Linked DNA regions of Homo sapiens. The protein of the gene in region 4 interacts with the protein of the main gene of each other region in a pairwise test. Each region holds a gene or a part of one and is shown on either strand. Other genes may lie near its edges. The genes, in order: CLEC10A, CD300A, LSMEM2 and TMEM218.

What was found.
Region 1: the proteins of TMEM218 (region 4) and CLEC10A interact in binary tests that used the Homo sapiens proteins (3 or more experiments, as listed by UniProt).
Region 2: the proteins of TMEM218 (region 4) and CD300A interact in binary tests that used the Homo sapiens proteins (3 or more experiments, as listed by UniProt).
Region 3: the proteins of TMEM218 (region 4) and LSMEM2 interact in binary tests that used the Homo sapiens proteins (3 or more experiments, as listed by UniProt).

What each region holds. Positions count from the first base shown.
Region 1 is NC_000017.11:7,074,027-7,077,279, forward strand, and holds the end of CLEC10A (C-type lectin domain family 10 member A), read right to left. Parts: intron 2,962-3,253; coding exon 2,866-2,961; intron 2,779-2,865; coding exon 2,707-2,778; intron 2,127-2,706; coding exon of another isoform or gene 2,046-2,126; coding exon 1,959-2,045; coding exon of another isoform or gene 1,950-1,958; intron 1,860-1,949; coding exon 1,705-1,859; intron 1,441-1,704; coding exon 1,334-1,440; intron 1,197-1,333; coding exon 1,028-1,196; 3' UTR 511-1,027; downstream 1-510. UniProt on the Homo sapiens protein: C-type lectin receptor involved in recognition of N-acetylgalactosamine (GalNAc)-terminated glycans by myeloid antigen presenting cells (APCs).
Region 2 is NC_000017.11:74,469,621-74,476,658, forward strand, and holds part of CD300A (CMRF35-like molecule 8 isoform 1 precursor), read left to right. Parts: intron 1-3,915; coding exon 3,916-4,254; intron 4,255-4,911; coding exon 4,912-5,065; intron 5,066-7,038. UniProt on the Homo sapiens protein: Inhibitory receptor which may contribute to the down-regulation of cytolytic activity in natural killer (NK) cells, and to the down-regulation of mast cell degranulation.
Region 3 is NC_000003.12:50,282,051-50,288,616, reverse strand, and holds the end of LSMEM2 (leucine-rich single-pass membrane protein 2), read right to left. Parts: intron 2,147-6,566; coding exon 2,033-2,146; intron 1,944-2,032; coding exon 1,755-1,943; intron 1,549-1,754; coding exon 1,415-1,548; 3' UTR 503-1,414; downstream 1-502. Other genes in the region: IFRD2 (interferon-related developmental regulator 2), read left to right, coding at 1-34, 113-208, 346-426.
Region 4 is NC_000011.10:125,094,606-125,101,643, reverse strand, and holds part of TMEM218 (transmembrane protein 218), read left to right. Parts: intron 1-122; coding exon of another isoform or gene 123-200; intron 201-340; coding exon 341-443; intron 444-3,903; coding exon 3,904-4,038; 3' UTR 4,039-7,038. UniProt on the Homo sapiens protein: May be involved in ciliary biogenesis or function.

The DNA.
Region 1 (3,253 bases), on a different chromosome or scaffold from region 4:
CTGTGAACAAGGCCAGGCTAAGCTAATGTGGCCCAGTCATCCCCATTGTCCCAGCCCAGAGCCAGCCAAATATGAGACATGGGAGCAAGGCTACCCTAGACCAGCCAACCCCAAGCCAACCCACCAGCTGACCACGGACGCATAAACAAGCCCAGCCAAGATGACCCAAACCTGGCCAGACCAGACCTATAGCCTCATGAGCTATAATAAATGCTTACTGTATAAGCCCTGAGCTTTGAGGTGGTTTGTTACACACCAATTGCTAACCAATACACCTGGGGATCTTATCTACATCTCCCAACAACTCTGGGATCTTCAGAGAAATTAAACAATGGCTTTTCCTAATCACCCTAAGTTTATACCATCTTTAAGTGACAGAAAAGATTTGAACTCAAATCTATATGAGAAGAAAATGCTATTTTCTCAATCACATAGGACTTTCGAAGGCTTCACCTGGCTTCTCCACTCTGCCATTTTTAGATTGCCAAAAATCAAGCAACACAAAGTACGTAAGTTCTCACGAGAGTATATATTCACTTATATGAAGTATATACACGAGAGTGTATGATTTCACTTATATGAAGTTCTAGAAGCTCTAGAAGAGGCAAGGCCAATAAATAGTGAAAAAGAAGTAGATCACTGGCCTGGAAACAGGGAAGTGGTTGGACTGCCCAGAGGCATGAGGGGACTGGTGGGGGCGATGGCAATGTTATCTATTGCGATCGGAGTGGTAGTCACCTAGGCATGCATATTTGTCAAAGTCATCTCTACTCTTTAAATGAGTGCATTTTTATTATGTAAAAATTATACCTTCATGAAGTTGACTTTCAAAAGTTGGAAAAAAAATAAAAGCTTAAGAACACTATACCATCTTTTTAAAATTAAAGAGAAAAAAATTCAAAATGTTAGCAGTGCTTCCAATCTCCCAGTGCTTATTTCTCTCCCAGAGCGGTCTTGCGAGGAGGTCGTGAGAAGAGTCCTCCTCCCACCGCCATTTCTGTGGCCGGGTGGTCCCACCAAAGGCAGCTCAGTGACTCTCCTGGCTGGTCTGACCCAGGCCAGCCTCGCAGACCCAGTGGTAGGGCCTCTGGCAGACGTCGTCATTCCACCTGCCGTCTGGATGGAAGTGAGCACAGTCCTCGCCTCCACCCAGCCCGTGCCCCTGCCAGTCGTCTGGCTGGCCTGGCTTCCAGTTCCTGAGAGGAAAAGACAACAGCAAGCTAGGAAGGGTAGATGGAGTAGAATTCAGTTCAGGGGAGGAGAGGCTGCCAGTCAGATCCCTGGGGGAAACGCTGACGGAGGACATTGGCACAGAAAGCCAGGGTGCACTCACTGGAAGCCGGTCGCATAGTCTGTTCCATCCACCCACTTCCAGGCTCCTTCAGGGTCACTGAGGCCCATCCAGGTGTATGCGGAGCCTAGATATTTCTGGACAAAATTCTGCGGTGACAGAAGGGCAGTGGTGACTTCTTCCCATCCCAGCCAACTCCTTAAACTAGTGATTCTCAACTTTAGCTCTTCGTTAAATCAACTGAGGAGTTTGGAGATGTTTCTCTGGATGCTCAGGCCTATTAAATCTCTGAGGGTGTGGCACAGATGACAGTCATTCTGGAAGCTCCCAGATGATTCCAATGTGCGGCCAAGCTTAAGAACCATTTCCCTAAATGGGACATGTCTTAGGAACTGAGTACCAGAAGCCCTCACCTGCTCCTCCCTGGAGTTGATGACCACCAGGTGGGCGTTCTTCAGCTGGCAGTACTTCTCAGCCTCGGCCCAGGACATCCCAGAGTGAGAGAACCAGTAGCAGCTGTCTTGGTGCTCCACCCAGTTGACAGGGCAGCAGGTCCCTTCAGTGGAGGCTGATTGGGGAGAAATAGGATAGGGTGGAGAGGCTGAGGCTCTGCCCAGTGGGCCATGGGCAGAAAAGTAGGGCCAGGTACTCCCCATACCTTCCTCACCATTGTTGTTGAGAGTAGCCACCTGGCAGGTCAGTTTCTTCAGGTCTTGCACCAGCTGCTGGACTCGCAGGAGCATTTCAGAATGAACTGGGACACACACAGATGGGCAGTGGGGACAGTGGCCTAGGTGTGCCTTCTGCGTAGTGTGTTCCTGGAGCTCAGATACCCCTGCACAGGGCCAAGCCAGGGAATGTTCCTTCCCGCCCCCACCCACCCCCTACATCATGGCCAGGTACAGCCATCAAATCTGCTTTGGATTCCTCTGCCCCTGTTTCTCCAGCCTGCTCTCCAGAGAAAGCATGCTGCCTTTCTTTCTTTCTTTCTTTTTTTTTTTTTTTTTTTTGAGACGGAGTTTCACTCTTGCTGCCCAGGCTGGAGTGCAATGGCGCGATCTCGGCTCACGGCTACCTCCGCCTCCCGTGTTCAAGCAATTCTCCTGCCTCAGCCTCCCTAGTAGCTGAGATTACAGGCGCCCACCACCACACCCAGCTATTTTTTGTATTTTTTTTAGTAGAGACGGGGTTTCACCATGTCGATCAGGCTGCTCTCGAACTCCTGACCTCGTGATCCACCCGCCTCGGCCTCCCAAACTGCTGGGATTACAGGCGTGAACCACTGCGCCCGGCCTGCATGCTGCCTTTCAAGCTGCTGGCTGAAGGGGAGGGCAGTTCAGCACCAGGAGTCTGTTCCCACCTCCACTGTGTCTGAGCGCCTAGCCCCCCACACCCATACTCGGAGGGTCTCTCACCTGCCTGCCGTTCCTGCTTGAAACCCTCCACCTCAGCTTTCAGAGATGCTATCGTTTCTTCCAAGCTGCTGCCTGGAGGACACGGAGACTTGGCTTAGGGGTCAACTTCCTCCTCCCTGGCCTGGCCCCAGCCCAGAGCCCCATCCAAACCAGACTCACCCTGGGAAGTCAGTGCCTGGATCTCCGCCACAGTGTTTGAGGTGAAGTTGCTAAAATCTGTTCTCAGGGTCACCAGGTCCCTCTGAAATTTGGAATCTAAACAGGTGGATGGGAAGGTCAGTGCTGGGATTCATCAGGTCCTCTGTACCAGCACCGAGCAGGGCCCTCCATAAGCATTGCCTTATTGGGTCCTCACGGCAACCCAGTGGGGCAGGCACTATTATTGTTCAATATTGCCGATGAGGAAACTAAGCCTCAGAGAGGTGAAGTAATTTGAGTACATAACCCAACTACTCAGTGACAAAGCCAGCAGCCATCCTGACTATGGGTCCGTCAACTCTCTCCATCACTACCCCCACCACCGTCCCCATCAATCACTCCATCAGTG
Region 2 (7,038 bases), on a different chromosome or scaffold from region 4:
TTGAGACCAGCCTGGCCAACATGGTGAAACCCCGTGTCTCCTAAAAACACAAAATTAGCCAGGCATGGTAGTGTGCACCCTGTAGTCCCAGCCACTCGGGAGGCTGAGACATGAGAGTCACTTGAACCCAGGAGGCGGAGGTTGCAGTGAGCCGAGATCATGCCACTGAGCTCTGGCCTGGGCGACAAGAGCGAAACTCTGTCTCAAAAAAATGAAATAAAATAATTAATCATTTACCCCTTACAAAAAAATCCATTTATTAATGTATATACTAACTCCACTGTTTTTCTGTTTCTTAATTCACTGATTTCTGTGAATTCACCAGTTCGTGAAAGATGACCTGGTTCTTTCTGTGTTGTGTGTGGGTGTGTGTGTTCCTCTTCTGACCTCTTGAGTTGGACAATTCAGTCATTTACCTGAGAGTTAATGGGTCAAGATTCTGTGATCTTCAAGGAAAACGTTAAGACGACAGAGGAATATCCTGGTAGAGGACCCTGGCCCCAAGGTGGTCCCCAGTCTCCTGTTTATGATTAGAGGGGTTTGGGGTGGTGATTCAGGTTGGAAGAGAGAAAGCGCAGAAACACAAGCCTGGGAGCACTGGGGATCCATGTGATCGTTCCAGGTAAGTGGGGAAGTAAATGGAGGGTTTTCTGACACTTCGCAATCTCTAAATTATAATGACACCCTCACAGGTGGAACAGAGCTTTGGGGAGATGATTGGGTGACAGTTTTTTATCCAAGATTTCAGAGAAGAGAAGTTAATCAGGAGAGAGAGAAAGAGAGAGAGCTAGAGGGAGAGAGAGAGAGGGAGAAAGAAACTAAATCCGAAGGGAAGTCAGACACTGGAGGTAGGACGAGAGACAGGATTGGGTGCAGTGGGCAGAGGTGGTGGGGTCACTGAGGTCAGGAGAGAAGCCAAAACATGGACAAAGAAAGATGACGATTCGCAGCCCAGGAGAGGCAGGGAATCGGGTCAGGACAGGGAGCAGGAACAGTGTCTTGGGTGAAGGAGGGCTGGGAACTGACAGTTTTTATTTATTTTTTTTGAGATAGAGTCTCACTCTGTCGCCCAGGCTGGAGTGCAGTGGTGTGATCACAGCTCACTGCAACCTCCACCTCCTGGACTCAAGTGATCCTCCCGCCTCAGCCTCCTGAGTAGCTGGGAATACAGGCACGTGCCACCATGCCTGGCTAATTTTTTGTGTTTTTGGTAGAGATGGGGGTCTCACCACATTGCCCAGGCTGGCCTCAAATGCCTAAGGCTCAAGCAATCCTCCCACTTTGGCCTCCCAAAGTGCTAGGATTACAGGCATGAGCCACTGCACCTGGCCTATTTATTTATTTGAGTCAGGGTCTCACTCTGTCACCCAGGCTGAAGTGCAGTGATGCGATCATAGCTCACTGCAGCCACAACCTCCTGGGCTAAAATGATCCTCCCACCTCAGCCTCCTGAGTAGCTGGGACCACACGTGTGCACCAGCACACCTGGCTAATTTTTGTATTTTTTTGTAGAGATGGAATCTCACTATGTTGCCCAGGCTCCATTTACTTATTAAGTACTTAATATGTGTCAATTTTAGTGATTTGTGTTTTTCTAGAAAATAACTTTCATCTAAGTTTATGAATTTTATGTAGAGAATTTCTGCAAAATATCTTGACTCTTCATTCTTTCTTCATCTATGGTCCTTTTCTCTTGTCATGTCTTATTTAGTCAGCCCAGAGGTTATCTATTTTTATTAGCTGGAGTCATGTGAAACCCTGTTGTCTTGGTCAAAAAGTTTAATATCAGCCATTTCATGTGATTCAACCTAATGTTATTTACCAGGCATTTTATACCTGTGATCTCATTTAACACCCTCAAAGGCCATATGAGTCAGGGACAATTGTCACCACTCTATAGACAAGGTGTCTGAAGCTCAGAGAGGTTAACTAACTTGCCCCAGAACACACAGCTGATACGTAATAGGGTAGAGATGTAAACGCAGATGGTTCTGAGGATCTTTCTGCTTTGTCCTGGCAATTGCTGCTGAGAGCCTCAGGAAGCATCACACCTGTGACAAGCTTAGAAAGGCCTTCTCTGCAGGGGGATGTGTACATCCAGGCGTGGAGAGGTTTGGGTGGGACTCTGGGAGAGGCACAGAGGAGCTTATCTTTGGGCAGCCGTGGGCTGGGTGTGGAGCTAGTGGGGTCCAGGAGAAGCTTGCACTGAAGTTTTTGTAGAGGGCCTACAGGTGCAAGGCACCTGTAGACGTTGAAGGTATAAGAAGGAGACCCCTACCAAAGTCTCATGTGTGAGGAGATTTAGCATCTGAAACAGTAAGTAAAATTAAAGAGTTCTGGCCAGGCGCAGTAGCTCATGCCTGTAATCCCAGCACTTTGGGAGGCCGAGGCAGGTGGATCACCTGAGGTCAGGAGTTCGAGACCAGCCAGGCCAACATGGTGAAACCCTGTCTCTACTAAAAACACAAAAATTATCCGGGTGTGGTGGACGCCTGTAATCCTAGCTACTCGGTAGGCTGAGGCAGGAGAATCGCTTGAACCCGGGAGGCAGAGGTTGCAATGAGCCGAGATCCCGCCACTGCACTCCAGCCTGGGCAACAGAGCAAGACTCCATCTCAAAAAAAAAAAAAAATCAAAGAGTTCTAACCCAAGGAAAGAAGAGCAAGCCCCCATCCCCACCATCCTTGAACAATATGGGGCCTAATCACAGAATTACAAGGGCATTGAGACACTGCACACACAACTGCCCAGCAGGCCTGTGCCCATCTGCCTGGGGCAGGGGCCATGTGTCCTCTGCTTGGCAGCCAACACTAGCTTCGAGCCATCACCTTACTCTCCTTGCTTTGCATCTGATAATTATTTGGGAAAATGTCAGACATAATTTTCAAGGAAGTTCATTTATTTCCGAGATTTAAGTCTAGGAGAGCTGGGCAAACTAAGGTAAGACACAGGATGAAAGTTTTCGTCAGCAAGCCTTCTGCGTTTGTGACTCTTTTTTTTTTTTTTTGAGACAGAGTCTCACCCTGTCACTCAGGCTGGAGTGCAGTGGTGCCATCTCAGCTCAACATAACCTCCGCCTCCAGGGTTGAAGCGATTCTTGTGCCTCAGCCTCCCCAGTAGCTGCAATTACAGGCGCATGCCACCACGCCCAGCTAATTTTTGTATTTTTAGTAGAGACAGGGTTTCACCATGTCGGCCAGGCTAGTCTCGAACTCCTGGCCTCAAGTGATCCACCCACCTTAGCCTCCCAAAGTGCTGGGATTACAGGCATAACCCACTGTACCCAGCCAGTATTCTTGTCAAAATGGCTTGACAACCCTATTACTGCCCGGGTTTGCCCCTTGGTGGGACCAGATCAGTGTGTGGGCCGGTCTTCCTCTTGCAGGGTTGCCCAGGGCTGGGGTGGCCCTCCCGGGAGTGCAGGTGCTTAGGGGTGAGTTCTCATGCTCCTGGCAGGTTTGGAAGCAGGAGGCCCCTGGTGGGTGAGAGGGGTGGGAAGGGTAAGGGAAAGGAGGCAGGGGGCTGGAGAAAGGGGCTACTATGAGCAAAATCTTGAGGGTGGTAGAGCAGAAAAGAGAATACTCAAGCTGTGATCTGGCTGATGGGGCTGATATGAGGTGAAGGAGTCAGGGGCTGAGGGCTGGGGGTGCTGATGTGGAGTCGGGGAATCTTTGGAGGAGGTGACTCCAGGGCACCCAGCCTGAGCTCTTCCGGTCTCCATGGAAAGCCTCTGCCCCATTCCCACCTGTGTGCGGAGGTAGCCTCTCATCCTCAGTCCCCGCTCCTGGGTGGACAAGGCCTCTCTGCCTGCCGCTGCCTCCTCCACACCCCCAGGGTCCATGCGGCCCTGACCCCAGGGCACCCCTGACCAGGCTCATCTGAGGAGGAGCTGGGACTCTGGCTTGTGTTTTCCAGGATGTTTTGCTCTGAGCAAATGCAGGACCGTGGCGGGCCCCGTGGGGGGATCCCTGAGTGTGCAGTGTCCCTATGAGAAGGAACACAGGACCCTCAACAAATACTGGTGCAGACCACCACAGATTTTCCTATGTGACAAGATTGTGGAGACCAAAGGGTCAGCAGGAAAAAGGAACGGCCGAGTGTCCATCAGGGACAGTCCTGCAAACCTCAGCTTCACAGTGACCCTGGAGAATCTCACAGAGGAGGATGCAGGCACCTACTGGTGTGGGGTGGATACACCATGGCTCCGAGACTTTCATGATCCCGTTGTCGAGGTTGAGGTGTCCGTGTTCCCGGGTGAGCCCCTCCTTCCCTCAGCGCCTAAATAGGCTCAGGTTGGAATTGTTGGGGCAGGAATCAGATCAGAGACGTGAAGCAGACAGTGTGTGTGTGTGTGTGCGTAAGAGAGAGAGAGGTGGGGGCCAGGGGAACACAGTCAGGGGGTCTCTCCTGGAGCAGCTGACATGTCTGCCCAGTATTGAAGAAGGGAAGGGTCCAGTGACAGGGAGGCTGAGAGAGCGTTGCCTGTGAAGGAGCCAGGAGCGCACCTGTGGCTCAGCCCCAACGGAAGTGCAGCTGAGTGGGGGAGGGGTGGGGCTGAACAGAGAGGCTGGGGGGCCAGATGGGAAGCTGCTGTCCTCAGGGGGAGCCTTACCACATGACAGGTCAGATTTGCAGTGTAGACAGACTCCTCTGCAGCATGGAGTTTCGCAGGAGCACCTGGACCCTCATCAGCAGGATGGAAAATCAGGACCACTGGGAGTGGCACCCGTGTCCTGTTCAGAAATGCCCAGTTGGCCCAGGAGGGTCCTGGAGAGACTCTAGCCCCAGGGTCCTGCATCCTGCCCCCTTCCTTAGTGGGCAGTTTGTGTGAAATCAAACCAAAAAGGCATCCTGAGTGGTGGGAGAGCCAGAGGACAGCTCCCTGGGTCTGACTTGTGGTTTTGCCACCAGCATCAACGTCAATGACACCTGCAAGTATCACTGCGGCCAAGACCTCAACAATCACAACTGCATTTCCACCTGTATCATCCACTACCCTGTTTGCAGTGGGTGCCACCCACAGTGCCAGCATCCAGGAGGAAACTGAGGAGGTGGTGAACTCACAGTAAGCACCCTAGCCCCTGAGACATGGAGGGGGCCCTGTGCTAAGAGGAGGAGCCCAGGGCGGGGACCTTGGCCATGTGGGCCAGCTGGAGGTGTGCATCGCTCCCTTTGCCCCAGGCCCAGGTTGGAAGCCATAGTCTGAACACCCCGGCTTGGACCTGCCCTTGGCTTTGGAAGGGGGCTCAGGTAGGGGGGAAGTTGGGGGGCAGATGGAAGGAAAGTGATAGTTACTGACAGCTGGTAACATCCTACGAGGCCCGTGTTAGATGCTTCACATGAGTATTCTCACTTGCCTTTCACTGCAGCCCTGTACTGTTGTCATTCCGTGTATTAGTCTGTTTTCGCACCGTTGATAAAGACATACCCGAGACTGGATAAATTATAATGAGAAAGAGGTTTTAATGTACTCACAGTTCCACATGGCTGAGGAGGCCTCACAATCAAGGCAGAAGGCAAAAGGCATGTCTTACATGGCAGCAGGCAAGACAGAGAATGAGAACCAAGCAAAAGGGGTTTCCTCTTATAAAGCCATCAGACCTCGTGAGACTTATTCACTACCACAAGAACAGTATGGAGCAAACCACCCCCATGATTCAGTTATCTCCCACTGGGTCCCTCCCACAACACGTGGGAATTATATGGGAGCTACAATTCAAGATGAGATTTGGGTGGGGACCCAGCCAACCCACATCAATCCCCATTTTACAGATGAGTAAACTGAGACTCAGCGAGGTGAAGCAATTTGCCCAGTCAAGTAGCTACAAGAGGCTAAGGCTAAGCTTCCAATTCTGGTTTATGTGACTCCAGAGCCTTGAGTTCTCCTCTCTAAATAGTGGTTCTTAACCTTTTTCGGGTTCACCAACCCCACATAGAATCTGACATCTATGGACACTCTCCCCAGAAAAACACATGCAGTCACAAACCTTTTCTGGGATTCACGGACTCCCTATTCTAGCACAAAACCCCACAATTCCATCCTGGCACTATCCACCCAGAGTTAGTGCAGACCCCACAGGTGAAGAGCTTCCACATCTAAATCAGATCCCACAAGACCGCCCTGATTTAGATGCCAGTCGAACTTTGGGGATCCCCAGGCCACCACACTTCTGACCAACTGGATGCAAATTTGGGGGTTCCCAGGACCCCCCCAGGTTCAATAATTTGTTAGACTCAGAACTCTGGAAAGCATTATACTTACAATTACAGTTTTATCATAAGGATAAAGGATAAAGATTAGGACCAGCCAATGCAGAGACACATAGGACAAGGCTTGGGAGGATTCCCAAACAGTTTCTGTGCCCTCTCCAGGTGGAATCAGGGAGCATCACCTGCACCCTCCCTGCGGCACCTCAATATATTTATCAACCAGGAAGCTCCTCCAAGCTTTGGTGTCCAGAGTTTTTATTGGGGTTTCATTACATAGGCATGATGTGATTGAACTGTCTCCACCTCCAGTCCCTCTTTGGGAGGTTGGGCTGGCTCAGGGCTCCAAATCTCTAATTACGTAGTTGGTCTTTCTGGTGACCAGCCCCATCCTATTGTCTCATCTCTTACCAAAGTCCAGGTGTGATTCATGAACAACAAAGACACTCCTAATTTTTGGGACATTCCAAGGATTTAGAGCCTCCCTCCTAAGAGCTAGGGACAAAGGCCAGCCAGATTCTTTACTGGACAACATCCATAAACCCCTCCACAGGCTTCTGCCAACATATAAGACAAGGCAAAATTCAGGCTTGAACATGCCACTTCCAGAAGTTTAGCCTGTAGATACACATAGGTGGCAGCGCTGAGTTCTGTGGGGCCTGAAGGTTGTGCAGTTTGCGGGGTGGGTTGGTGGGTGGGTAATCTAAGAAAAAGATGAGAAAATTATGAATGCAAACGTAGGCATGAAGGAAAGGGCCCAAGCAATGGAGGGACCTGAAGCTGGGCTGCATCAGCCTCCTGGTCAATCTGCTGCTGCGTGGTCAGGTGTGA
Region 3 (6,566 bases), on a different chromosome or scaffold from region 4:
AGTGCTGGGTTCGGGCATGCACCACCACCTCCAGGTGCGGGGACGGACAGGGAGGGGACATCTGGTGTGGTTGCTTCAGTCTGGCCTGAGCTCACTGCCCTCTGCCCCCCAGAACAATGAGCTACTCCGTGACATCTTTGGCCTGGGCCCTGTGCTGTTGCTGGATGCCACTGCCCTGAAGGCCTGCAAGGTTCCACGCTTTGAGAAGGTTTGCACCCTTGGGCACCTTTCTCTTCCCCCTATTCCCATTTCCTGGAGGCCTGGAATTCTGTAGAGGCCGGAAGAGGACCCCCAGCCCTTTCCCTTCCCAGCTCCCCAGGGTGTCACTCTCTGTCCCCACTCTAGCACCTGTACAATGCTGCTGCCTTCAAAGCCCGGACCAAGGCTCGAAGCCGTGTGCGGGACAAGCGGGCAGACATCCTGTGAAGCAGGACCTGCTGAAGAGGAGACTTTCTATGCCCTTGGTCCGTATTTTTAACAGAAGACAGTGCAACAACTGGTCTCCACCAGTATTTGTCACTTTATTTTTTTTAATGACAAAACCAAAAACAGACATGGGGTGGGTAGCTGGGGGCCCGGACACTTGGGACCCTGACCCCTTTGTCCCTGCACTCAGCCCTGTGGCCCCTTCCTGTCCTGTCTCAGGCCAGGCTAAATATGTGCCTTCCTCAGGGCTGTGGGGCAGGCACTAGGGGGCCTTTCCCTTCCTTTCCTTTCTCAGGCCTTGCTCCCCCAGGATGACCCACTCTTAGGGGGGTGGTGGCATCTGGACAAATGCCACCACAGCAGGTGGGGTGGCAAAGCTACCTGGAATGGATTTGTGTGCTGATTTTTAAGGATTATTACAGATAATTAAACAGAACGGTCAGCCTTCTGTGGTCTTAACCCCTGGGTATTTTTCTGTTCTCCCTCCCCATCTACTATCCCAGGCTTGGGCCCAACTGGTCTTCCACGATGTCACCTTTGCCCTCCAAGGCAGTCTTCCCCAGGTGGTGCCTCTCCCCCTACTCAGAGCCCAGCCTGTCTTTAAGAGCTGAGGCTGGACCCTCACTGGGAGCCCTGGCAGAGTTTGGGTGATTGCTATGGGGGCAGCTATTTCTAGACTTCAGAACCTGCCATCTGGGGTGGCCAGAGAGTGTTGACAGGCCACAGGAGGAGCCAGGAGGCTGGTGCCCCTTCCCCTGACCTTGGGCCACCCAAAGCGAGGCTTTGGCACCAGAGGCTTGGCTAGGCCTGGCTTGAAGAGATCAGGAGAGGGAGGCAGCCATTAAGTTAACAACAGGTTCTTGTACAAAAATCTCACCAAGGAAATAGTGTAGATGTGGCAGCCAGCAGTAGGGAAGGAGAGACCTGCCCATAGCCACTTTATTCCCCCACCAACACACACCCCCAGGCCCCAGATCCAAATGGCATCTCAGCTGGGTGCTTGGGCCTCACTGGAGTTGAGCCTCCGAAGCTGGCTGAGGCTGGCCAAGCGGAGTTTGAGTAGTGTCTCCTCCTGCGTGCGGAGCGTGTGTGCCAGGATGCGCAGGGATTCACTCTGCAGCACTGTGAATGGGAAGTGGGGGATCATCAGACCATGTGCCACCCCGTGACCCCTGCAGACCCAGCCCAGGACCAGGGGCAGCCACGGGCCTCCCGCCCCATCCTTCACTGCTGCAGCATCTGCAGTTACTCCTTCCAGCTGCACAGAAGGGCCTCCCAGTCCCCACTGCCTTGCTTTCCATTCCTACTAGCACCCTATGCGTCCATACCGCTCAGGTAGACAGCCAGGAGTGCGAGCACTAGGCAAGTGAGCACCAGCAGCGCGAGCAGCAGCAGGAACCCTCCTCGTCTGTACACAGGGCTGCAGCCAGCCTGGGCACACAGTGACGGCGGCAAAACGCCCAGCAGCTCATCCCACGGTCGTGCCTCTTCAGTTAGATAGGGGCGCAGTGTGCCTGCTGGGTGGATGGGACATTGGGAGGGTGGTGGGTGCACCTGCTTTCGTCCCCTCCCCCAGCACATCATCCACCCCACTGTCCCCACTCACCTCCACTATGTAGGTCGCTGATGGACTCCACCTGGTGCAGGCATACCTCATGCACGTGGTTGGGGGCCAATGGCCCCCTGCTCCTCTGGCTGGGCATCATTGGCGCCACGGAGTCTGCAGGGGCAGCGCAGGCTGATTTAGCCAGTGGTGGGTCAACCCCCTTCCTTCTACCAGGTGGCTTCAGGCAGCAAGGACTTGCGGATGATAGGGATAGTGGGACATTTGGTTCCAAATCCCCTAAAACTGACTCAGGAATTACCCTTGATTTGGATCCAGGATGATCCCAGACCCTTACAGGCTTATTCTGTATACAGGAGCAACAGGTACATTTGATTTGTTTCCTTCCAAGCACCCCAGGGACTCACTCAGGCATTCCTCTGCCTGCTTATTTCTAGCAGTTTATCAGCCTTGAATGCTAAACCTGCAGCAAATGGAATTCAGTCCTGCCTCTTTTGTCAGTTCTCCCTGCAGACCCAATGCCTGGCATCTTCTGGTCAGAAAGCCCTATTGTAGCCACTCTGGTGCCTTTCCCTCCTGGCCTTGGTTCTGTGTTTGTTAACATACTCAGTGTGACTCTGCTGTACATGTGTGAACCCTGCTGTTTTCATTCAACATTTACTGTTGGGGAGACCCTTCTTTGTTATACTGTTGCACATGCCTCTGAGGTCTCTCCCTTCACACATCTCCCTGAGGCTGCCTGGGCATCTAGGTTGTTTGCAGTCCCCGCCCCCCTTTTTTTTTTGAGACGGAGTTTCGCTCTTGTTGCCCAGGCTGGAGCGCAATGGCGCGATCTTGGCTCACCGCTGCAGTTCCCTTTTGAAATTAACCCCCAGGACATCCACCGTTGAATATGAAGGTTTTTTCCCAATTTCCTGATAGTTTAATTCCCAGAAGTGGAATTACTGGATCCAAGAGCAGGGATTTTTGTTTGTTTGTTTGTTTTTTGAGATGGAGTCTCCCTGTATTGCCCAGGCTGGAGTGCTATGTCGTGATCTCGCCTCACTGCACCTTCCACCTCCTGGGTTCAAGCGATTCTCCTGCATCAGCCTCCTGAGTAGCTGGGATTACAGGCGTGTGCCACCACGCCCAGCTAATTTTTGTATTTTTGGTAGAGATGAGGATTCACCATGTTGGCCAGGCTGGTCTGGAACTCCTGACCTCAAGTGATCTGCCCGCCTCGGCCTTCCAAAGTCCTGGCATTTACAGGCATGAGCCACTGCATTTGGTCGTTTTTTGTTTTGGTTTGGTTTTTTTAAGATGGAGTCTCCCTCTGTCGCCCAGGCTGGAGTGCAATGGCAAGATCTCGGCTCACTGCAACCTCTGCCTCCCGGGTTCAATCAGTTCTCTGCCTCAGCCTCCTGAGTAGCTGGGATTACAGGCGCCTTCCACCACACCCAGCTACTTTTTATATTTTTAGTGGAGATGGGGTTTCACCATCTTGGCCAGGCTAGTCTTGAACCCCTGACCTTGTGATCCACCCACCTCGGCCTCCCAAAGTGCTGGGATTTACAGGCGTGAGCCACCGTGCCCGGCCTGTTTTTTTGTTTTTGAGACAGAGTCTTGCTCTGTTGCCCAGGCTGGAGTGCAGTGGCGCAATCTTGGCTCATTGCAACCTCCACCTCCTGGGTTCAAGTGATTCTCCTGTTTCAGCCTCCCAAGTAGCTGGGATTACAGATGTGTGCCACCACGCCCTGCTAATTTTTGTATTTTCAGTAGAAACCAGGTTTCACCATGCTGGCTAGGCTGGTCTCAAACTCCTGACCTCAAGTGATCCGCCCGCCTCAGACTCCCAAAGTGCTGGGATTACAGGCGTGAGCCATCGCGCCTGGCCTGAGATTTTTGTTTTGTTTTTGAGACAGATTCTTACTCTTTCACCCAGGCTGGAGTTCAGTGGAGTGATCACAGTTCACCGCAGCCTCCACCTCCTGGGCTCAGGTGATCCTCCTGCATCAGCCTTCCCAGTAGCTGGGACTACAGGCATGCACTACCATGCCCAGTTAATTTTTTTTGTATTTTTTGTAGAGACAGGGTTTTACTATGTTGCCCAGGCTGGTCTCGAGCTCCTGGTCTCAAGAGATCCATCCTGCTTGGCCTCTCAAAATGCTGGGATTACAGGTGTGAGCCACCATGCCCGGCCTGATTTTTTTTAAAGCTATTACCAAACTGTCCTCCAGAAGCACTGTCCACAGCTCCCCCGCAGGGTATAATATTGCCACCATTAGGCATCCCCATAGGAAAAAAATTATATTTACATGCACACGTGCACACATATATTTGCTAACTTGAGAGATGAGAAATGGTCTTTCTTATTTTATTGGGTTTCTTAGCCTAGGGAGTGTGACTAATACGTGTGTGGCGCTTTTTTTTTTTTTTTTTTTTTTGAGACAGTCTTGCTGTGTTGCCCAGGCTGGAGTGCAGTGGTGCGATCTCAGCTCACTGCAACCTCCACCTCCCAGGTTCAAGCAATTCTCGTGCTTCAGCCTCCCAAGTAGCTGGGACTACAGGCACCTGCCACCATGCCTGGCTAATTTTTGTATTTTTAGTAGAGACCAGGTTTTGCCATGTTGGCCAGGCTGGTCTCAAACTCCTGACCTCAAGTGATCCACCCGCCTTGGCCTCCCAAAGTGCTGGGATTATAGGCGCAAGCCACCATGCCCAGCTGTGTGTGGCTTCTTAATTATCAATTTGAAGCCTCTGCCCATTTAGTCACTTGGGTCTGTGTACTTTTCTTTTGATTTTAATTATGTACTTTCACACTCATTGAAGTTTTTGCTTTTTGTTTGTTTGTTTGAGACAGAGTCTCTGTTGCCCTGGCTGGAGTGCAGTGGCACGATCTGGGCTCACTGCAACCTCCGCCTCCCGGGTTCAAGGGTTTCTCCTACCTCACCCTCCTTAGTAGCTAGCACTACAGGTGTGCACCACCACACCCTGCAAATTTTTTTTTTTTTTTTTTTTTTTGAGATGGAGTCTCGCTCTGCCGCCCAGGCTGGAGTGCAGTGGCACGATCTCGGCTCACTGCAAGCTCCGCCTCCCAGGTTCGTGCCATTCTCCTGCCTCAGCCTCCCAAGTAGCTGGGACTACAGGCGTCCGCTGCCATGCCCGGCTAATTTTTTGTATTTTTAGTAGAGATGGGGTTTCACCATGTTAGCCAGGATAGTCTCGATCTCCTAACCTTGTGATCCGTCTGCCTCAGCCTCCCAAAGTTCTGGGATTACAGGTGTGAACCACCGCGCCCGGCCAATTTTTGTATTTTTTGATAAAGATGGGGTTTCACCTTCTTGGCCAGGCTGGTCTTGAACTCCTGACCTCAGGTAATCCACCCGCCTCAGCCTCCCAAAGTGCTGGGATTATAGGCGTGAGCCATCGCACCCAGCCGGTGTTTCGTTTGTTTGTTTGTTTTTGAGACAGAATCTCCCTCTCTTGCCATGCTGGAGTGCAGTGGCGCAATCTCAGCTCACTGCAACCTCCGCCTCCCAGGTTCAACCGATTCTCCTGCCTTAGCCTCCCGAGTGGCTGGAACTACAGGCACGTGCCACCACGCCTGGCTAATTTTTGTATTTTTAGTAGAGACGGGGTTTCACCATGTTGGCCAGGATGGTCTCGATCTCTTGACCTCGTGATCTGCTCACCTCAGCCTCCCAAAGTGCTGGGATTACAGGCATGAGCCACCATGCCTGGCCTTTTGTTTGTCTGTTTTTTTTGAGACAGAGTCTTACTGTGTCACCCAGACTGGAGTACAGTGGCATGATCTCAGCTCACTGCAACTTCTGCCTCCTGGGTTCAAGTGATTTTCCTGCCTCGTCTCCCCAGTAGCTGGGATTACAGGCACGTGCCACCATGCCCAGCTAATTTTTGCATTTTTAGTACAGCTGGGGTTTCACCATTTTGGCCACGCTGGTCTTGAACTCCTGACCTCAAGTCATCTGCCCATCTTGTCCTCCCAAAGTGCTGGGTTTACAGGCATGAGCCACCGTACCTGGCCAATATTTAATTATATTTTCTTCTAGTTGTTCTTTAACTTGATGTCTAAAAATCCTGGTCCAGATGCCAAGAGCTCCAGATACCCACCTGGAAGCTGATAACAGTAGGGAAGAGCATTGAGGGGACACCTCCAGATAGGAGCAAGGGTGGCCTTGCACTCTGGGACTGTCATTCTCAGGACAGTAACTCAACCTCCATGATTTACTTGAAACTGCCTCTTGACGTGCTCAAAAGCAAGTACAACAAAAACAAGCAAGTGCTGCCAGTCATTATGTCTGGGTGGTGGGTTGAAGGTCATATTAAATTCTCTCTTTGGGCCGGGCACTGTGGCTCATGCCTGTAATCCCAGCACTTTGGGAGGCCAAGGCAGGAGGATCATTTGAGTCTAAGAGTTTGAAACCAGCCAGGGCAACGTAGGGAGACCCCATCTCTACAAAAAAATCAAAGATTAGGGCCGGGCATGGTGGCTCACACCTGTAATCCCAGCACTTTGGGAGGCTGAGGTGGGCGGATCACGAGGTCAGGAGTTCAAGATCAGCCTGGTCAACATGGT
Region 4 (7,038 bases):
ATTTTCTAAAGTATTCTGTTCTAAAAACAACAGAAGTGGAGGTGGAGAGGGGATGCTTTGGTTTTTCTTGATTATGACTTTGGGCAGAAGTAAAAATAAAAACTACACATTTCCATTCTTAGGAATTGGGAATTACCAAGAATAAATGGGAATGCACCCAGCTGGTACCTGTCTAGGAAGAAGGACTTTGGGATGAAGAGGTTGTTGACAGCAGGCCTCTGGACATTGTTAAGGGACTGAAACATAGAATATTGGCTCCAAGGAAGAGACTGTCCAGACCTAACTGATCAAAGAAGAAATTATAGACAGTGCTTTTAATAATTTGTCTTTTTAACCCCAGGTTCTCTGTCATTTTTTTATTCTTCGGTGCTGTGATCATCACATCAGTTCTGTTGCTTTTCCCGCGAGCTGGTGAATTCCCAGCCCCAGAAGTGGAAGTTAAGGTAAAGCTGTTGCTTTCGTTTTGCCTCCTGAGCTGTGATTCTTATTTCTCTTGGTCTGCACATCCGTCCTGCCCTTGATGTTCCCTGACATCGGGTTGCCTGAGATGTCAGAATTGTAAAGTTCAACCAATGACGGGGAAAGTTCAGAGGGAGTTTTAAGTTCCCCTGCCCCTTCACTCAGGAAAAGAATCTTACTCTGAATTCCATCTACAACCCCACCAGGCAGTTATTTGCCTGATTTGGTCTCATCTTCAGTTTGCATCAAGTTGAAAACAGCCTGTTGGAAAGCCACCTCGTACCATGGGGACAGAAAAAAAAGAAAATGAAATAGGGATAGTCACAGGCCTGCACCCGAGATGAAGTGTTCCCATTCCTGGCAGCCTGGGCTCCTAACTGCAGATCCTGGGCTGAAATTGATGTGGTGCCCTGAGGGTGCTGAGGACATGCTTCTCCAACTGCATGTGCTAGAATTTTCCCAACAGTCTTCTGGGAGTTCTTTGGTCCTCATACCTGGGACCATACCTGCCAGCACCCATGTCTTTAAATGGATTTTTATCATCTCTCTCAGAATCCTTCTCTGGAGTTCTTTACCATGGCTTTACCATGCATGGCTGGTCTCAGACCCATGGGATCTTGACAATGACATTGACCTTTTCTGTCCCATTACTCCTTCTCACAGCTTTCCTCTCAACCTTCATTTTGATGTTTTAAGTGATAGTCATGAAAATAGCTAACATTCTTTAAGGGATTTCCGTGTGCCAGGTCCTGTGCCAAACACTTTGTTTGCACTGTCTCATTTAAACCTCAGGACAGCCCTAAGTAGTATGACATAGGTACCATTATTATCCCCATTTTATAGGTAAGAACACTGAGTCTGTCAGAGGTTAAGGTAACTTGCCCAAGGTCACATAGCAAGAGGCAGAACAGGGATTCAAGCTGAGGTCCGTCTTCAAAATCTTCAGTGTTGAGAACTTAACAGAATATTCAGGGCAGTCCCAGAGAGCTCATGGGTTAGCATTTTGACACTAGACAACAACAGTACACAAGATTATATGTGTAACTTTTGAACTAAAATTGACACTGTAGGATTAACTATGGCAAGAGGAAGGAAATTAAACTCCAAGGGAAATAGTACTTTACCACACACACTTAAGGAATTATTTCCATGGACACAAGTTTGTTGTCAGTATTTGGAAAACACTCTGGAGGTGTGGGTACCACATGTGTGAGCCAGGGGCAAATTCACACCTCACTTATCTTTTTTTTTTTTTTTTTTTTTGAGACAGTCTCGCTCTGTCGGCCAGGCTGGAGTGCAGTGGCATGATCTCGGCACACTGCAACCTCCGTCTCCCGGACTCAAGCAATTCTCCTGCCTCAGCCTCCCGAGTAGCTGAGATTATAGGCATGTGCCACCACACCCAGCTAATTTTTGTATTTTTGGTAGAGATAGGGTTTCACCATGTTGGCCAGGCTGGTCTCAAACTGCTGACCTCAGGTGATCCACTCGCCTCAGCCTCCCAAAGTGCTGGGATTACAGACGTGAGCCACCGCACCCAGCTGCTTTCCTTGTCTTTTAAGGGGGAGAGTGATGTGGGCTGCCACATTTCTGGATGCTGCAGATGTAAACATCGGGAGAAGGGCACAGAGCAAACACATTTTTGAAATCAATCCCTCGATTGTCTGTCATATGAGTTTCAGACCCAGGAGACAAGAATGGGGTTTGAGCAAAATACTTTTGTCAGCATGGCCGGCAGAATTGGAGTTCTCATTTTCAGGTTTTGAGAGCGGGCCTCTGCAGCAGCCTGGCTCAATGCTGTATCAATAATACATGGCCTGGGCCTTCTGCACCCAAGGCCTGCTAATTGGCTAATTAAAAAGTGAAACGTGTCGAACGAGCAAACATGTGGCCCGCAAGAGACTTGTTCAGTACCGGAGCCAAGGTCAAAGTTATGTTAAAGCTGTTTTATCAAACTGACCTTTGTTGTAAGTTGACTGTTGGGGTAATCTCTGGAGCAGCTGAGGTGTCTTTGGACCTCAGTGATCCTACTAGGGCTCGGGTCTGAGAGATACTTTGTGTATGGCCGCTGTGTTAGTTTTCTGTTGCTGCTGTAACAAATTATGTGAACTAATGGCTCCCAACACAGATGTATTATCTTACAGTTCTGTAGGTTAGAGTCCAACATCAGTCTCACTGGGCTAAAACCAAGGGGTTGGCAGGGCAGCATTCCTTTCCAGAAGTTCTAGGGGAGAATCCATTTCCTTATCCTTTCCAGCTTCTAGAGGCTGCTCGTATTCCTTGGCTGACAGCCCCCTTCCTCCATCTTCAGAGCCAGTGACATCACACCTCACTGATGCTTCCATCCTCACCTCTCTTGCTCTGACCCTCTCTCCCACCTCCCTATTCAACTTAGAAGGATCCTGTGATTAGATTGGGTCCACCTGGATTGGATAATCCAGATTAATACCCCTTGTTTTAAGGGCAGCTGATTGGCAATCTTAATTCTCCTTTAACATATAATCTAACATATTCACAATTTCTGGGGATTAGGATGTGGATATCTTTGGGCCATTATTCTGTCTGCCACAATTGCCTTTCAGCTGTTTTGGATTCTCCTAGGTACTGGGATTTCAAAGTTTCTGTGAAGTCAGTCAGCCACTTGGTTGGTGGTGTTGCTCCATTAGGTCTATAGATTAAATTGCTTTTTCCTGCCCAAATTTAAGCACCACCATTTGGATCTGGGGAGAGTGGAGCTCTGGAAGGGGTCAGTGGACAAGTGGGTAGAGCCAACACCAATTATAGGGTTTTGTCAGCAAAGACCAACATCTTTGGGGCCTCAAGTGTAAGGCCAGGCAGCCCACTGTCTGCTTTGGGGCAAGTTACCTATCCTTTTAGTGTTTTAGTATCTCAGGTAAATGGTCATTTTCCCTGCCCCGTGGCATGGGACTCTTCCGCTGATAGCTTTAAAGAGTCACCTTTCATTTTGAAAATGAACCCTCCTGAAATGGCAATGGATTGATGATTTTGGGGGTTGGGTCTTAGATACATGGGAGTTTATTATACTATTGCATTTTTATGTATGTTTAAAATTCTCCGTAATAAAATGTATTTTAGCAACAACAAAAATGAGCCTTTCTAGGACCATGCAAAAGCTTCTCATTAACTCTTTCAGGTAACAGATTTCAGAATATAAAAGAATTCATCCAGGGACTTCAAAGTGTTTACCAACATCCTAAATTGAGCCATTTGTTCCCTGTCCCTCATTAATCCCTTCTTGTGTCTCCTGCTCAGGGAGTTGAGGAAAAGATTCTTTTTTCTCATGTACAGAGGAGACTCAGGGCAGGATGTTACTGGAAGTTATACACATGAACTAACTCTTGGCCCACTCATCATGGAGTTCAGGTTAACCCAGCCAGGGTGTCTAACTGGTAGTAATTTCATTTTGATGTTTTCTTTCTCCAGATTGTGGATGACTTTTTCATTGGCCGCTATGTCCTGCTGGCTTTCCTTAGTGCCATCTTCCTTGGAGGCCTCTTCTTGGTTTTAATCCATTATGTTCTGGAGCCGATCTATGCCAAACCACTGCACTCCTACTGACCACTCTTCAGGAAAACGAAAACCTGTTCTCTCCTTCATTGTGATGACATTGATGAGCAGGAAGGCACTATTCAGAGCCTTGTTTTGACAGCCCTCATGCCTTAAGGTTAGAGGAGTATCTGTCCATCACTAAGACAAATCTCTGGAGTCCTGGCTTCCAGAAACAGGATTGCCAAATTGTCCCTGTGGGGCTAGATTCTTACCAGCTTAAGAAGGATATTGCTATCTTCTTAGTACCCGTACCTTAGGATTTCCAACTGTTTTGAAAGGGAAATAGTAACAGTGATCTGCTTAGAGTGGATTTTCACTCAAGTCCTTAGTAAGTGGATTTTGGGGAAAAAAGCACCTGGGCTTCTGGTTCTTTTTGATAATATATAAAATTATTCATTATGAGGTTGCAGTTGTTTGCAAAGGAGAGGCACTCAAATTTGAAAGGTTATTTTAATGTGATAATTTGGAAGACTTACTCAGATGTTGGTCATTGACCACTCTGTGCATATATTTCTGCAGAGCTCTGTGAAGGCAATGAGTGTCACTTCCCTCTGCTCTAATAAAGCAATAAATAATAGCTAAAGGGCTGACTTTCACTTCGAACTCTTGGCCACGGCTTTTTAATCAAGTTCTTTAGGTTTCCTTGGGATTAGAGGAAAGGTATGGAAATATTGTTTTTTGTTTTTTGTCTTGCCATGTATCTGTAGGTTTTTTTCTTCCATGATGTGGTGGGCTGTGTGTGCCTTATTTAATTACCATGAGTCCATTTTGGGGTGTCTTCACTTTTCATCTTTGTAGCCCTTTCTCCAAAGCTAGTGAGGAAGGTATATTCTCAACATCAGATATAACTCTATACCTGTCTGATCTCCCAGACCAAATGAAATTTGCATTAAATGGAGGGGCCCTGGTCAGGTTCCACTTTGGAAGTCTGATCCTGACTCCCTAGAGCCATTTGAAAAAGAATCTTCTGGCTTAAAATTAAGAACCAAGAAAACAAGTTGGAAAGAGATCACTGATGGAGTATGTGCTCTATGCCAATAGCACACTAATTCCTTTGAGGTTTAATTTATTTAATTTTTACAACGGTCTCATTTTTATCATCCCCACTTTAAAGTAGAAAAAATGGAAGCTTAAAGAGATCAGCTGACTTGCCCAACCTTCACCTAACAGCCAGTGTGCAAACCCAGGTGTGGTAGGCCCCAGGGCTTGTCTCAGAGAGAAAACACACTAGGGTTTGTGGAACTCTGATTGAGAGCTTCAGGTAGGTTAAGGCCACACTGTTCCTTCACTTTCTCTCCTCAATTCTGTTTTCAGGGTAGAGAAGTTACCCAGTCCTGCCACCCCACAGGCAACTAAGCTCTAAATTCCAAGAAGAGAGAACAGGTAACCACTGAGAGTCATGGGCTGGTGAGGGCCAGGTATAGTTATCCCTACATTGAACCATTTCCTTTATCTTACTTAGTTTGGAAAAACTTTGCAGATAAGGCTTTGTACAGAAAACTTCAAAGGAAATAGTTTCCTAATCTGGCCTAGGGCACACAGGTAAGAAAAGAAGAAACATCCTCTAAGCAGATTGAGGGAGAGAAAAAAGAATGCATAAGTCTTGAGGGAATTGAGACAAGCTGGGGGCCTCATGCTATTGTGAGTCTCCCTGCAGCCCAAGTGGAAGCTTGGCTCCTAACAAGCACAAGCTGCCAATTGTTACCTTCTTCTGAGAGCCTTGCTAAAAAAGTAACTCTGGGAAAACTCTTATAGGTTCCTGACCATGAATCCATCTTTTTTATTCCCCCCAAAAGTTATTCAACTATTAGATCAATGGATAATAACTATGAGGTTTTGGGTGACTATTTAGATGGAGGAAAGTGTATTAAGGTTGGAAACTAAATTCTATCCTTAATACTACTGTTTTCTAATTTTTGTTTTTTTGCCTGATGTAAATGAAAGGCATATATGTTAAAGATTGGCTTTAGGAAAAAAAAAAAAATACCCTGTGCAAAGTTTATTTCAGCTTGACTTGACCTACAGTCTACAGACCTGGAGTCTATAATTACCAGCTGTGGTGAAATGAATGATAGATTTCTTTCTACCTGCATACTCAATGCAGTTATGCAAAAAAAGCCCCGCAGGGTTGGGATAAGACGTAGAAGGCTGAGAGGGCTCAAAATGGATTTCACTGAGAGTTTGGCATGGGATAACCCTATAGTCAATGTCTGTTATGGTACCCTGTATGCTCATGGCCTTCTTGGAGACAGGGCTCAGAGGTCATTCCTTAAATACAGACAGAAGTCATCTTAGTGTTCAGAACCATTCTGTGATCAGTGGCCTTAGAACATGTTCCCTCTACTGTTCCCTACCCAGAGGGGATCCTGTGGCAGACTGGTGATCCCCACTGTTTAGAAGGTGGAGAGGGAGAGTAAATCTGGGTTTCTATATAAGAAAATAGGTTATTTCGTGGCGTCTTAAAATTGTATCCTGACAAAAGCTGAATTAGGAGGATACCACCCTATCCCCACAATGGAGATCACAATGGGTAATTTGTTAAGTTCCTTAAATTTTTCACTGATAAAAATGGAAGTAAAGCTACCATTCTTTGTGTACAATGTAAATTTAATGTAAAACTGCATCAGAATTACCATACCAATGTCCAGGGACTAGGGAGTACATAGCCATTCATTCTCGAATCCTGCCATTCATTCAGCATATATTGTGTGCCCGTAGGGTGTAAAGCACTAGTCCTGGTGGAGTAAGCCCATGGAAGAACTAGGCTGTAAGGTGTCTAGACTGTCTTCCTCACTGCTTCCTGGAAGGAGGGCATCCAATTTATTTTTAAATGTTTTTATTCTAACATAAAGCAATCCATTTTTTGTTCTGTTATTTAACAGAAACTTTAGTATCAACTCTATTTCATGGTTGTTGCAGTTGAAGTGTTTCTGGTTTATTTTTTGCTCAATGTGTAAAGAAACCTGCTGTGATTATTTTACAGATGAGAAACAGGCAGAGAGGACAAGG